2 separate regions of the Homo sapiens genome follow, and region 1 is linked to region 2. Evidence: fine-mapped expression QTL. Tissue or cell type: whole blood. Region 2 holds a variant in brackets; the other region holds the start of a gene. All regions are shown on one strand. Distances are from middle to middle.

Evidence for each region. PIP is the estimated chance that this variant, and not a neighbour inherited with it, causes the effect.
Region 1: JAM3 starts here. The variant in region 2 is fine-mapped to the expression of JAM3 in whole blood (TOPMed, PIP above 0.99).

The regions. Positions count from the first base shown.
Region 1 is chr11:134,065,769-134,073,952 of GRCh38, reverse strand. JAM3 (junctional adhesion molecule 3) reads right to left here and starts at 4,881. Exons shown (of 9, transcript NM_032801.5): 1 at 4,794-4,881. The coding sequence starts at 4,869. RefSeq lists a silencer at 4,887-5,076.
Region 2 is chr11:134,092,553-134,100,736 of GRCh38, reverse strand. The region is part of intron 1 of JAM3 (junctional adhesion molecule 3); the gene reads right to left. It overlaps LOC124902797 (a long non-coding RNA gene), which reads left to right and starts at 6,052. Exons shown (of 2, transcript XR_007062960.1): 1 at 6,052-6,208; 2 at 6,389-8,184. The variant T/A (reference allele first, on the strand shown) is at 5,025.

The sequences.
Region 1 (8,184 bases), 27 kb after region 2:
CTACTGTAGTACAAACTGACACTTTTCCAGAAGTTCCTAGGGCCACTAGAAATAAGACATTTTTTTAAAAATGCCTCGACACAAAGAGAGTGTTTAAGAAATGTTAACTCACTTTCAAGTGACAAAGTGAGATAAACTGAATATTTACTAGAATCACCTCTGGAAAGATACAAAAAAATTAAATTCAGCCTCTGTTACCAACAAAATGTTTATTATCATTGAGAAAATACAATGCACTGACACCTAACAACTAAAGCCCAATGTAAATCGGAGTCAATTACCCTGGCTCTTTAAGGACTGGCGATGTTTTACCCATTTTGCAACCCTAGCACACAGAACAGTGCCTGACACGTCATAGATACTCAATAAATGGGTGTTGTACTAAACTGAACTAGAGACTATGATCTAAGCTTATTTAGAGATAGGAAGGATCACTGTGGGCTGAGGTTGTCAAACATAGCAGATAGCATGACTATGGCAGAATTTGATTTTGGCAATAATTTTCAGGAAGAAGGCTGAACCATAGAAACCTTGGGAAACTGCAAATGAAAGATAATGTAAGAAAAAATGTTCATATAGTCCTAACTCTATTAAATAGTTTGATGTCTTTATACAAGCAGCACTGAAACCTCTGCTGTATGTATTAACTACTCATGGGAAATGTAATATATAACACATAACAAATACTACTTAAAACCAAAAGAAACACACCAACACAAAACACTACAGCATTCCTGGGACATCAGAAACAAGGGCTAACTCTCAGGAAGCTTTCTGTGTGCCATGCCAAGAAGCAGAGAGACAGTCAATTAAGGCTTTAGCTCTCCATATAGAGTACCACAGTGGATACTGTCCTTGCTAAACTAGGTGTAAAAGAATGTGCTTACCAAAACTTTCTTTCGGGATCGCTTTACACTCCAGTGAAGCTATTTGCATATACTGCTAGAATTCTGAGAGTACATGCAAAGATCTGAAATTTGCATTCAACTTTGACAGCATAACATTCACACCACCTGACTATAAACATCTTTTTTTTTCCCCCAAGACGGAGTTTCACTCTTGTACCCCAGGCAAGAGTGCAGTGGCGCAATCTCAGCTCACTGCAACCTCCACCTCCCGGGTTCAAGCGATTCTCCTGCCTCAGCCTCCAGAGTAGCTGGGACTACAGGCAAGCACCAGCACGCCCGGCTAATTTTTGTATTTTTAGTAGAGACAGGGCTTCATCATGTTGGCCAAGATGTTCTTGATCTCCTGATCTTGTGATCCGCCCACCTCGGCTTCCCAAAGTGCTGGCGTGAGCCACTGTACCCGGCCAACTATAAACATATCTTAAAAGAGAATCCAGCTGGGCGTGGTGGCTCACGCCTGTAATCTCAGCACTTTGGTAGGCCAAGGCGGGCAGGTCACTTGAGGTCAGGAGTTCAAGACCAGCCTGGCCAACATGGTGAAACCCCATGTCTACTAAAAACAATAAAAAAATTAGTCAGGCAAGGTGGCACGCATCTGTAATCTCAGCTACTCGGGAGGCTGAGGCAGGAGAATGGCTTTAACCTGGGAGGCGGAGTTTTGCAGTGAGTTTTGCAGTGAGCTGAGCTCATGCCACTGCATCAGAAACTCAGTCTCAAAAAAAAAAAAAAATCCAACTTCACCACTAGGGTATTCTTCAGCAGACTCCATACATCCTAACTTCATTCACACATATTTTCCTTTCTTTTACTACATTTGTGCTTTTAAAAAATTCAAAGAATTTATGGAGAAGGAATTTGCTAATACCACATCTCTAACAGCTGCTAGTCGAATGTACTAAATCCATAGCTGCGTCTGTTACATTATGTGGCCATCTTATACTTGAGGAAAGTCTGGTTGCTTTCAAAAGAACTGATTTAAACCCACCCCATGGAGTTTAAGAACAAGTTCCATGGAGCTTAGGGGTTGTGTGGATAATTCTGCCTGAATGTAATACTGCAATTACTTATGATTAAGTATCTCTAGTACTTATCCATTCAGTCTCCTTAGCCTGAAGCACTGAAGAACAAATGCCCATCAACAAGTCATGTGGGAATGAGCAGCTGATATAAAGTACTGCATGCTTTCAAGACAGGTGTTCTTTGTTTTTTTTAAAACATACACACAAGTCTGACAATGATTATATCTGCCAGATAATTAAGAATTAGAACATAAAAGAATATGCCATTCTAAAAAACGTTACTGGAGTCCAAACAGATGCAAATAAAAGAATTAAACATTTTTTCAAAAATTTCCCAGAAATTTTGATTTTCAGATTTTGATATGCTTCAGCACACAAGTTGTCTTATCTGAAGAATGAAAACTGTTGCTGTTTTAATTCTAAATAAGGCACTTCTCTCTAGAATATCAAAGATTTGGAAACCTAACACTAATGAGTACACAATCATTCAAAAAAGCCATGTGGCATAACATTTGTAAAGCTGAACTGCACCTGTCATGAGTCAACAAAAGAATATTTTATATACAAACCACATAGTGTTGAAAACTTGATAATCTGTTTAAACTGATCCATTAAAAGAACTCCACCGTCAAATGGAATAATACAAATAACTAAAAATTGGATTAACACAAATAATGAAGGATTTCCCATTTAAAACGCACAGGATAACACTCCCGACAAGGGTCTGAATCTCTCCATACTTCTGTTCCCTCATCCACAAAAGGGCACAACAATAGTAACGACTTCTTAGAGTTATCAAGATTAAATAAATTAGCAAACATTAAATTCTTGTAACAGAGCCTGGCAAAGGGTAACCACAAAAGAAATGTTTGCTGTTATATCAAGAACCAAAATTTTTAAGATGAAAATAAATAGTAATAGCAATTGAGAATAATCATAAAAAATAAAAAGGACACAGTAGTCATGACTTCTGGAAGAACAGTTTTAGGGTAGCTTAAAGCATAAACCAAATAATGGAAAAAGAGCCCCTACTAAAAAAAAGATAGCTACACGCCTTCAAAGTGGATTCATACATCCTACTACCTCGATTATTTGTCATTAGAACTAGTTTGCAAAATTTGATTCTTCCTCCTACGCTCTGCATGTGAATCCCAGCCCCTACCAGCAAAAAAGCCACAAAACTAGTCCCTTAGGGGAAGGAAATCAGAGGTTAAGGGTAAGTGAAGCTCTTTGCATTTTCTAGTTTTATTAACAAACTACCAAGTTGAAATTCATTCCTGAGCTAAACTGCCAAATGCTTCTGCAACAAAAACTGCAAACTTTCACGTGAACAGATCTTTTCAACAATAGAGAGTTGTTCCAGGCTGTGAATAGGACAGTGTCAGTGTGACCAACACAGCGGGTGCTGGACATTCCTGACACCCTTGTCCCCTGGCTAGCCTTTGATCACTTATCTCCCAACAGCATTTGGTTTTGGGAATCACTTTCAGGCAAAGTATACAGACTTTGCCTTAGCGTACATAATCTATACGCTAAAACTCATCTTTTGTCACAGCCCATCACGAGCATCCCATTAGCATAAAGCACCAAACACAGGAATGCTTTGTTTTCCAAAATCTGTCCACCTTCACTCCTAAACAGTCCCTCCGTGTTTTAATTTGTATATTCTGGAAAACATCATGGGATGACAGTGGCAATTCAAACAATAAAATAATCTAAGAACCGAAAAAGGTCCTGGTCTGGTTACCTGCGGATGGCTGCCAGGGGAAGAGTGTGGTGTCCTGCTTTAGGTAAATATGAAGTTGAGGCTTCACTACTTAGAATGCAGCCTTGGAAAGCAGACTAGACTTGACTCTGAAAATGGATTAATGAAACCTATCTCACAGAGCTGCTGAAAGGAGTAAACGAGATAATGGCTCCAAAGTGCCTAGTAGACAGTACAAGCTCACTAAAGGAAAGCTATTTTAGTCCTCTGTACAACTGTCCAGGAAAATGTGGATCTAATGAGAATTCCAAACAGAGGGAAAGAAAATGCACAAAACTATCAAGTTTATTAGTGTGTCTTGATCAAATGCCCCGAATGCTATTTCCGGATAAGAGTCTGCGTGGTCTCCTCGGCCAGGCCAGAGACAAAAAAGGTACTGGATTGATATCCATTTTATTTCTGTAAAAGAAAAGCAGTTCCTTTGTGTCGAGTCAAATGAACTGCAGATCCCCAGAGGGCTGTGACCAAGCAGCCCGCCAGGCCTCGGAGCTCTGCCTCGCCGGTCCTCAGCTACGTCCCCCGCTCACCGTCCCTTCTGGAGAGCACAGCACTGCTGCGCAGGGTCTTCCAGCAAGTTCCAGCGCCCACGCCGCAGCTGCCGCGCTCCCTCCAGAGGGCCGTGCCCACCGCCCGGGAGGGGTCCACCCCGGGGACGAGCCCACCGCCCAGCACAGGACCCCGCCTGGGAGGAGCCCACCCGGGGGATGAGCCCACCGCCCAGCACAGGACCCCGCCTGGGAGGAGCCCACCCGGGGGATGAGCCCACCGCCCAGCACAGGACCCCGCCCGAGAAGAGCCCGCCCCCGGGGTCCGACGGCTGTCCGGGACCGACTCACTGCCTGGGACGGGCCCCCCATCCCAAATTAGCTCCCCGCCCCGGTCCAACTGCCGGGCGTCCCAGGGCCCCCGCCCTAGCCAGGCCCGAGTCCCAGCCCTGGCTGCGGGGACGCGGGCGCGCGCCGCCCCTCCGGCCCGGGACCCCGGGAGCCCTCGGAGCCAGGACCGCTATCCTCGCCCGGACCGGCTCCAGCAGCTTCGGCCCGCTCTGCTTCCGTCGCCCCCAGACCCTAGTCTCCCAACAGCGGAAACGCGCAAACTCACCCCTGAAAAGCAGCAGCAGGAAGAAGTCAGGCAGCCGAGCGCAGAGCCGGAGTCGCGGTGGCCGCCTCAGCGCCATGTCGAGGGTTGCTGAGGGGCCAGCGGCAGCGCGGCGCGGCTTGTAGTCCCCGCGCGCATGCGCCCAGCCTGCCAGGACCCTGCGACCCGCCCCAGTTACCATGGCGACCGCCGGGCCCAGCCGAGCCGGCACCATGGTGACAGAGGAAGCTGAGGTCTAGCTGCTTACGGATGCAGCGATGCTCTGGACCGGCACATGGGTTCTCTTTCAATGAACTTGGCGGGAGGAGAGTAAAGAAGTATGTACAAGAGTGAAGCAGGGTATATTTCCATAGCTATAGAATAAATCCATCACAACAGGTCGGAGAAGGAACACTCCTTTAAAATTTGGGAAATAAAGTATTTCTTATTTTACAAATAAGGATGCAGCCCAGTTATCTTGGAAGCATTATCGCCTTCACATCTTTTGGGCCCCCAATTCCAAATTGATGGAAGGAAAAGAGCTGAAATCTGCTTAAAACATAAGCAATACATACATTATACAGCATATAAAAGTGATGTCTTGCTAAAATAATTTGTTTATGTGGTAGATCAAAAGCATGATGGCATACCCAATAGTTTATTCTGCAGAAAAGCAGACTAATTATTTGCTCTGATTTCTGAATACTGGGAGATAGTAAAACCAGGGAAGAACAGGTAAGATGAGGACAAACAGGAAAAATGAAGAGAAGGATAAATTAAAGCAGAAATTAGATCTAAAAAAGCAAGAGTATTTAAAGTCTCACTTAATACTATGGAAAATACTTGAAAAGCTTGTATTTTAGCAAGTATAGAAAGTACACCTCCAATGTTCCCAGAAACAGCAGTCTAGCAACAGAATTCTGAATATAATTGTTAGTAAAATAAGCCAGTTTCCAACTAATATTTTTAATGTTTAACTTTTTCATATACTCATGCTACTTTTTTAGTATTTTTAGTTTTCATGCAAAATAGAAGTATATTTACATATTATGTATACCAAATTTATATATGTAAAAGCCGGGAAACGTGAAATAGATTGAGATTGTTGCCAAGAATATGCTTCAGTTTCCATCACTGTATAATCTTCTTTGTAAATCTTTATAACTGCTCAGATCTTTATGTTAATTGATTACCTTCTCAAAAATCTTATAAAGACAGAATAAAAATTAAAAAATAACTCAATTACCTACTATGATTCTGTCTTTCCTTTCATAAATCTTCTTTATGTTCCAGGTCACCATGCACTAAATCACAAGTAAAAGTGTGTAAAAGTTGTTTTATAATGGTGGCCTCTTTCCCTTTATCAAGCACAAAATCGAGAAATTAAAAAGAAGAAAATTCGTCTTATGCCCACTGACATTTTTTTCTGCCCTCTGTTTTCCCTATTATTCCCTTTAGCTCCTGGTCACATGGCCAGGCATATTTACCTAACTGAAGGAACTGTTTGGGTTACTTGGAAATGTGAGATGGTGTCTGACTGTGGACAGAGCACGGTTTTCAAAAACCAGTGCCTCTTTTCTCCTGCGGAATTTTCAGTGTTTGCGTTGTAAAATGGTCTATCTGTTAAATGGTCTTCCTGCTAGGGAATCTTTTGAAACTCAGACCGAGATTACAAAAAAGGGCTGCATGAATATTCTATAAGGGGCAGAGGTTCCTAGGAGAGTGGATGGCAGGTGCTTCATTGTAAGACATTGATTTTCCTCTGCAGATGGAGTCGGCATGTCATTACCAACAGCTGAGACAGTTCCTGGAATGGAAGTCTAACTAGGGATGCAGCAGAGTGGGGTAGGACACACGTGGCTGTGAAGTGGTCTGCTCTTCCTTAGGGTTTCATTGTTCCCTGGAGAGCTCTGACCCTGTGCAGAAGGGAATCAGAGCTCAATAAGGCCAGCAGCAAAGTCCTGGAAGCATTCCGTGAGCAGGGCTGAGGAGGCTCTGCCTCCATCACAGCATTACTCATCTGAATATGCTTATTTCTAAGGTGTGGCTTACTAGGGAGACATGCACTTCTTAAAAGAGCTCGGGGAACTGAATGTAAACCAACAATAAAATGCTAAGCCCTGGCCAGGCGTGGTGGCTCACGCCTATAATCTCAGCACTTTGGCAGACCAAGGAGGGAAGACCATGAGGTCAGGAGTTTGAGACCAGCCTGACCAACATGGTGAAACCCTGTCTCTACTAAAAATACAAAAATTTGCCAGGCATGGTGGCAGGCGCCTGTAATCCCAGCTACTCGGGAGGCTGAGGCAGGAGAATCACTTGAACCCGGGAGGTGGAAGTTGCAGTGAGCCAAGATTGCGCCACTGCACTTCAGCCTGGGTGACAGAGTGAGACTCTGTCTCAAAAAAAAAAAAAAGCTAAGCCCCTCAACAATCTGAAATGACCCCTCCTCTCAGCCAAAGGCACTGCAAAGTTAACCTGAAAAACTAGTTTAAGCCATGATCGGGGAGTTGGATATGCCTTATTATACCCTCCACCCTTTTGGAATTCAGGCCAACTGACCAGCATCAACATTAAAACAGATCTTAAGACTGATAGGGCCAGGTGCGGTGGTTCAGGCCTGTAATCCAGGCCCTTTAGGAGGCCAAGGTGGGCGAATCACCTGAGTTCAGGAGTTTGAGACCAGCCTGGCCAACATGGTGAAACCCTGTCTCTACTAAAAATACAAAAAATTAACCAGGCATCATGATGCATGCCTGTAGTTCCAACTACTTGGGAGACTGAGGCAGGAGAATCGCTGGAACCCAGAAGGCGGAGGTTGCAGTGAGCTGAGATCGTGCCACTGCACTCCACCTGGGCAACACAATGAGACTCCGTCTAAAAACAAACAAACAAAAAAGACTGATACAACAGACTCTCTCTCTCTCTCTGAAGCCTGTTACCTGGAGGCTTCATCTGCATGATAAAAACTTGGTCTCCACAACCGTTATTCTAACACAGACGTTCCTTTCTTGCTTGCTTTTTTTTTGTTTTGTTTTTTGTTTTTGTTTGTTTGTTTGTTTGACAGGGTCTTACCCTGTCACTCAGGCTGGAGTGCAGTGGCACACAATCGTGGCTCATGCTTGAGCCTCAACCTCCAGGCTCAAGCAATCCTCCCACCTCAGCCTCCTGAGCAGCTGGGACCACAGGTGTGCGCCACCATAGCTGGCTAATTTTTCTACTTTTTTTTTTGGTAGAGATGGGATCTCACCATGTTGCCCAAGCTGATCTTGAACTTCTGGGCTCAAGTAATTTGCCCGCCTCAACTTCCCAATGTGCTGGGATTACAGAAGCGAGCCACTGCCCCAGAGCCAGACCAGACCTTCCTTTCTATCAGAATAATCTTTGAATCTGCCTATGACCTGAAATCCCAACC
Region 2 (8,184 bases):
ATTATAATACCTTTCTCCTCCAGTTGTAAGAGTAAGAGAGCATACGTAAAGTGCTGAGTACAGGACCTGACGCAGAGAATGCATTCACATGGTATCAGCCACTATTAGAGAACTGCTTTCTAGGTGCTGAGATTTCAGTGGTGTACAGACCCAAGGATGCCCTCAAGGAGCTCACTAGCAGTTGGGAAACAGGACTCAGATATATAAATACAGTGGTAACTCAAAAGTGGTCTTAAAGAGAAGGAGAGTCTAATTAGGGATTTTAAAAATCTGCTATAACCCATTCAATTTTTAGCTCCCCAAGGGATTTTCCTCACCATCTGGGCCATCAATGCAAGCGAGTTTGAAAAGCCCTCATAATTTTCCTATATCACACCTCCTCCTCAGCAAGAAAGGCTCTGTGGGTGGAAAGCAGCAAAGAACACTGTATGTTATGCAGAAAGCAATCGTTCCTCAGAAGACACAGGGCTCTGCAGAGCAGATGAGCCACAGAAACTTGTTTGGATCAGAAAAATGGGATCATTTCACTGAAGACCTAGAGATAGGAACTGACCACTATTTTTTTTTTAAGGAGGAAAGGGGGATTCACCTCAAAGTACTTTTCTAATCAGAAACAGAATTTGAGAAGAATTTAACATCTTAATTAAAGATATAATGTCACTCTCCCATGTCATGAGATTTAACTTTCATCAAAGGAGAGGTCTAACATTAAAGTCAGAAGTGACTTAAAAAATAGCACACATTGACTTAAAAGTATATTTTGGGTGACATTATTGGAAAATCTCCACTGAGCAAAGCAGAAAATGATGAGGTTAGAAAAATAAAGGAAGCAAGCCGGGCGCGGTGGCTCACGCCTGTAATCCCAGCACTTTGGGAGGCCAAGGCAGGCGGATGACGAGGTCTGGAGTTCGAGACCAGCCTGACCAACATGGTGAAACCCCGTCTCTACTAAAAATTCAAAAATTAGCCAGGCGTGGTGGCGCACACCTGTAATCCCAGCTACTCAGGAGGCTGAGGCAGAAGAATTGCTTGAGACCAAGAGGTGGAGGTTGCAGTGACCCAAGATCGCACCATTGCACTCCAGCCTGGGCGGGTGACAGAGCGAGATTCTGTCCCTAAATAAATAAACAAATAAATAGAAAAATACAGGAGGCAAAGGGCAGAAATCTTGAAAGAAACATAAAAATCAAGTACAGCACAACTTGCCTTACAAATGCAGTACAGTTAATTACAGATGACAAATACTGTCTTATCCTCAATACCACCATCAGAGAGAGGGCGAGACAGTGAGAAAAGGATCTAAATGGGTCCCTCAAATCCCCTTCTAAGTAGTGAGGAGTAGGAGAGAAAAAGAAAATGAAGCAAATAGAAACAGATTTCACCCAACTTGTTGGGACAACTCTGAAATCTGTTCCTGGGCCTGCCTTTCCCAGGCCAAGAGCTGCTTGCCCAGGCTTTTCCCTGAAACCTTCATTTTACAATTACCTCATTCCTCCCCCATGCAACCTGGTAGTATTATTTTTATTTTTATTTTTTGAAATAGGGTCTCACCCTGTCACTGAGGCTGGAGTACAGTGGCATGATCACAGCTCACTGCAGCCTCGAAACCCCAGGCTCAGGTAATCCTCCCACTTCAGCCTCCCAAGCATACAAGGACTACAGGCATGCACCACCACACATGGCTAATTTTTGTATTTTTTGCAGAGATGGGATTTCATCATATTTCCCAGGCTGGTCTTGAACTCCTGGGCTCAAGCAATCTGCCCACCTTGGCCTCCCAAGGTGCTGGGACTACAGGTGGTGAGCCACCACGCCTCTCCCTAGTTGCATTTAAATGAAGGCTTTCTGGAGACTGGTGTAACCCAAAGGTCTTTCTCTAGGCTGGAGTATCAGTGTGAATGTTAGTGGGAAACATGCTAGCTGAAGGAGTGCTTACTGAGCTATCCCTCACAAGTATCAGCAGGTGGAGCTCCACCTGCAAGCTAGCTCTGAAATCACCCTTAGGAAGTGCAGTATACCTCAAAATCAGGCCCAGAAAAAGAAGATACAATGCTGCTATTTGTCTAATTCATGAGTTCAGTGTACTTTGACAATGTCCTTGTTATGATGCAACAAGGATTTCTCTCTGCCATTTTAGCTAAGGCGAACATATAAGGAAGACAACTGACCCAACTACAGAGAATGAGTATCTATACTTGCCCCGACACTAATGGTTCTGACTTTAGATACATACTATTTCTACCTGGCACAGGTAGAAATAGTCTTGCTGTCCTTCACAATTGATTAAAACTAATTTTGCAAATCCCAAATTATCTCACGTGAACTTTCTAATGAGGTACATTTGGTTTTGATTATTGTGCTTTTTCCAAGAACTAGCTTTTTTTAAATTAAAAGACCTCTTTCAAAACAGAAGATTTCAGTTAATTTGGCATTGCTCTTAGTTTTCCTCTCTGAAGTTGAACTTTTGTGTCCACTCCTTCCCTAAAAAGCAGTCCATTTGTAAACTAAGTTTTCTGGATATAGGTGAGCTATATACATATGCATGCACAGTAAAAGGAATGGCTAGCTCTTCTTCCCCTGGAGAGCAGAGCTTGGGTGACACTTTAGCACGATGCCCTGGGTATACACTCAATCAATACTGACTAGGCCCAGGAGATGGATCTGATCCACATTTTTAGGGGAACTAAGCAGAAAAGGAGATGTTTCCTGCGTGCTTCATAAAGTATATAGGTTTTTCACTGACTGAAAATGATTAGAATATAGTCCTCACAATTTTATAAGCACTAAATTTTCAAGAACTGAAGGGCCAGAGTCCTTAATGTCATAAACTCAATATCTTACAGTGCAAAGTGTGTGTATATAAATATATATATACATATATATAAAAGAAAATTAAGAATAGACTTTAAATTTAAAAATCTGAAGATCACTCTTTTAAACTACTTTCCATGATCTGTAGAATTTATAAAGTGGCAACTTGTAATATAAAAATAAATCAAGAAAACATTATCCTGAAGTAAACATTATTTGGTCAGAAATACAGCAATTGTTAGTTTAAATGAAACATAATTTTAAATTGTTTTTAATGCTTTGCAACTTGAATTTTCCATTCCCTATAATGCCTCCCTTCTCCATTAGTAGAAAAAAACCGAGAGCTGACTACACAACCAGAAGTCAGCCTGCTCCTCAAACCCAGTATCAATAAGATGTGAGAAGAAATGTCCCTGCCAAAGACATTAAGTTGCATCACTAATGCTCCAAAGAGGTTCATCAAATGATTCCAGAGGTACTTGCGAATTTCACCGAATCTCAAATGAAGGAGTCAATACAACCTGTTCCTGAGCAAGTGCTGTAGAAGAGTGGCCAGCTGGGATTAATCTGTAGGCAAGGCGCCCTGAAATGCAGAACAGCAACCACAGACACTAAACACTGTTTCCAAAATTTGCCAACTTTCCTAGTACTCACTTAAGAAATTCCCTCTTAGAAATTGTTTCTAAGGAAAGTTCAAACTATTGAGGGAAGAGGATGGTAAAGAGTAATCAAAACACATTCACTATTGCCATTCCTCTCTCATGGTGTTTCCCCTCACCCTAAGCAGCTTGATGGGATGCGGGGGATGGGGTGTGGAGGGGACAAGAAAAAGGCTTTTCTGTATTATATATGACAAAGGGACTTCTGGAGGGCAGTGACTACATTCCAGCCCTCTTCCACAACCCCAAAACACACCACCACTGCACTCTCTCTGGGTAGTCCCCTAACAGTTCTACAAAGTGCCACATGTTAGCAAAATGTGGGCATACAGCTAATATTTAATGGTAATAATAAACCAAATTAAAGATACTAGATTTGCTAGATTTGGTGAATTATGAGAAAGCACAAACTGAGGAGTCCTTTATTAACTGGTACAGCATAGGTAAAGAATAATTCTGGCCAGTATCTACCCAAGGAAAGAAGAATCCAATCGTGTTCATTACTCATTAACTGAGCACACACCCCAATACAACAAAGAAGTCAGTTCAAAGCAAACCATAGCTGGAAACGTCAAAAGAAAACCATTCCTTGCTTGCAGGAAGGGAAAATGCAGAACTAGCTTTTAGATAATAGAAATGAGACTTCAGAGACTGCCTTTCCTTGGGTGAAGAGCAGGTGATTAGAGTCCCTAGTAAACATCTGCCCAAACAACTGGCCCCTGGATTTGAGAAGAAATTAAAATAGAGGAAATAACATAACATAATAAAACACTACTATGTACTGGCTATGAAGTACGATAAAGTGAAAGAAAGAACATACAAGCCCTTGCCTTATTGTTTGTCTCAACCAGATCCATGGTGCCAATCCAGACCCAGGCCTTCTGGATGGAAGTGAACAGACCAAGAAGATGATCAGAGAATCCAAACCCTTACCTATTTATACTAAACTGAAAGCTCACTCCAAGGATGTCAGTTCATTACATAAATGCCTTCTACACGGGCTGGGTGTGGTGGCTCACGCCTGTAATCCCAGGCCGAGGCAGGAGGATCACTTGAAGCCAGGAGTTCGAGACCAGAGACTGGGCAACATGGAGAAACCCCGTCTCTACTAAAAATACAAAACTCAGGCAGGTGTAGTGGCGCGCACCTGTCATCCCAGCTACTTGGGAGGATGAGGCATGAGAATCACCTGAACCCAGGAGGTGGAGGTTGCAATGGGCCAAGATCGCACTACTGCACTCTAGCCTGGGTGAGAGTAAGGCTCCATCTCAAAAAAACAAATAAATAAATAAAATGCATGGCAACTGACATCATGTACATCAACATTTGAGACACAGTGGGTTAGAGGGCTGTATGTGTCCACTGAGTGTTTGCAAGTCAAGGACAAAAACATTTAGAAACCTGTCTGAATCTTAGATGACAACATTTAAGATGTTTGTTATGTTTAAGATGTCTGGTATACTCAGTTTCTTCCTAAGATGGCGAAAAAGTAGCCCCTATTTAGTAAGTGGTCATGTAGCAAGTTAACAGCACACTCGTAACTGAGTACTTCCG[T/A]AGTGCTTTAACCTAGACTCTTTTGTTTCTATTTGATTTGCTTGATTTTGTATTTAATATTAGAACAAATCTTTTTTTTTTTTTTGACAGAGTCTCATTCTGTCGCCAGGCTGGAGTGCAGTGGCGCGATCTCGGCTCACTACAACCTCCGACTCCCAGGTTCAAGTGATTCTCCTGCCTGAGCCTCCTGAATAGTTGGGATTATAGGCATGTGCCACCACAACCAGTTAATTTTTTGTATTTTTAGTAGAAATGGGGTTTCACCATGTTGGCCAGGATGGTCTCGATCTCCTGACCTCGTGATCTGCCTGCCTCAGCCTCCCAAAGTGCTGGGATTATAGGCGTGAGCCACTGCGCTGGGCCTATTAGAACAAATCTTAGTCAAAAGACTTCATGTGCCAATAAAAAAAAAAGAGTTTTCCATATTTGCATTAGTACATGCAAACAGATCTTTAGAAGGTATTCCTAACAGGTGTATTTCTTCATTTAGACTGCACCATTCTGTTACAAAACCTATTTTCAGTAAGTGGGGAAACAATGCTGGTTTACTTTCTCTCTTCGAACTTTTCTGCCTCTCACATTTGTTTGACAGACCTAATGCTGACAGTTTTCTAAGATTCATTACTGAAATTTAACTAAATTTAACACAGCACATGAAGAAAAGAACCCAATATTACACTTTCATTCACTACATTAGACTTTCAGAATTCACTACCAAGCATATCTTTTAACATACGTGTTACATATGAAGGAAGCAGACTGCTGCCTATTTCCTCATTTATTAATATATTCAGTCATTTATTCAACAAATGTCGAACATTATTGAGCATCTAGCACGTACTATATTTGGGCCAAGAAATGCAGTGAACAATTCCTACTGTCATGGTCCCTGCCTTCTAATAATACACAAATAAACAACACACACAAACAACATTCTAATTCTACATATATAATTAATTGCAATTGCAATAAATACTATAAAAGTATAGGGGCCACGAAAGTGTATAATGGGGGTGTGAATCTGAGAGATCAGGAGATGCTTCCCTCAGGAAGTGACATTTAAGGTGGAACATGATGAATAAGGAGGGTTCAGGAGAAGCTTCCCTCAGGAAGTGACATGTAAGGTGGAACATGATGAATAAGGAGGGCTCAGGAGAAGCTTCCCTCAGGAAGTGACATGTAAGGTGGAACATGATGAATAAGGAGGGTTCAGGAGAAGTTTCCCTCAGGAAGTCACATGTAAGGTGGAACATGATGAATAAGGAGGGTTCAGGAGAAGCTTTCCTCAGGAAGTCACATTTAAGGTGGAACATGATGAATAAGGAGGGTTCAGGAGAAGCTTCCCTCAGGAAGTGACATGTAAGATGGAACATGATGAATAAGATGTAAGGTGGAACATGATGAATAAGGAGGGTTCAGGAGAAGCTTCCCTCAGGAAGTGACGTTTAAGGTGGAACATGATGAATAAGGAGGGTTCAGGAGAAGCTTCCCTCAGGAAGTGACATGTAAGGTGGAACATGATGAATAAGGAGGGTTCAGGAGAAGTTTCCCTCAGGAAGTGACATGTAAGGTGGAACATGATGAATAAGGAGGGTTCAGGAGAAGCTTCCCTCAGGAAGTGACGTTTAAGGTGGAACATGATGAATAAGGAGGGTTCAGGAGAAGCTTCCCTCAGGAAGTGACATGTAAGGTGGAACATGATGAATAAGGAGGGTTCAGGAGAAGCTTTCCTCAGGAAGTGACATTTAAGGTGGAACATGATGAATAAGGAGGGTTCAGGAGAAGCTTCCCTCAGGAAGTGACATGTAAGGTGGAACATGATGAATAAGGAGGGTTCAGGAGAAGCTTCCCTCAGGAAGTGACATGTAAGATGGAACATGATGAATAAGATGTAAGGTGGAACATGATGAATAAGGAGGGTTCAGGAGAAGCTTCCCTCAGGAAGTGACGTGTAAGGTGGAACATGATGAATAAGGAGGGTTCAGGAGAAGCTTCCCTCAGGAAGTGACATGTAAGGTGGAACATGATGAATAAGGAGGGCTCAGGAGAAGCTTCCCTCAGGAAGTGACATGTAAGATGGAACATGACGAATAAGATGTAAGGTGGAACATGATGAATAAGGAGGGTTCAGGACACGCTTCCCTCAGGAAGTGACATGTAAGGTGGAACATGATGAATAAGGAGGGCTCAGGAGAAGCTTCCCTCAGGGAGTGACATGTAAGATGGAACATGATGAATAAGATGTAAGGTGGAACATGACGAATAAGGAGGTTTCAGGAGAAGCTTCCCTCAGGGAGTGACATGTAAGATGGAACATGATGAATAAGATGTAAGGTGGAACATGAATAAGGAGGGCTCAGGAGAAGCTTCCCTCAGGGAGTGACATGTAAGATGGAACAAGATGAATAAGATGTAAGGTGGAACATGACGAATAAGGAGGTTTCAGGAGAAGCTTCCCTCAGGAAGTGACATGTAAGACGGAACATGATGAATAAGATGTAAGGTGGAACATGATGAATAAGGAGGGTTCAGGAGAAGCTTCCCTCAGGAAGTGACATGTAAGATAGAACATGATGAATAAAGAGGGCTCAGGAGAAGCTTCCCTCAGGAAGTGACATGTAAGATGGAACATGACGAATAAGATGTAAGGTGGAACATGATGAATAAGGAGGGTTCAGGAGAAGCTTCCCTCAGGAAGTGACATGTAAGGTGGAACATGATGAATAAGGAGGGCTGAGGAGAAGCTTCTCTCAGGGAGTGACATGTAAGATGGAACATGATGAATAAGATGTAAGGTGGAACATGATGAATAAGGAGGGTTCAGGAGAAGCTTCCCTCAGGAAGTGACATGTAAGGTGGAACATGATGAATAAGGAGGGCTCAGGAGAAGCTTCCCTCAGGAAGTGACATGTAAGATGGAACATGATGAATAAGATGTAAGGTGGAACATGATGAATAAGGAGGGTTCAGGAGACGCTTCCCTCAGGAAGTGACATGTAAGGTGGAACATGATGAATAAGGAGGGCTCAGGAGAAGCTTCCCTCAGGAAGTGACATGTAAGATGGAACATGATGAATAAGATGTAAGGTGGAACATGATGAATAAGGAGGGTTCAGGAGAAGCTTCCCTCAGGAAGTGACATGTAAGATGGAAAATGATG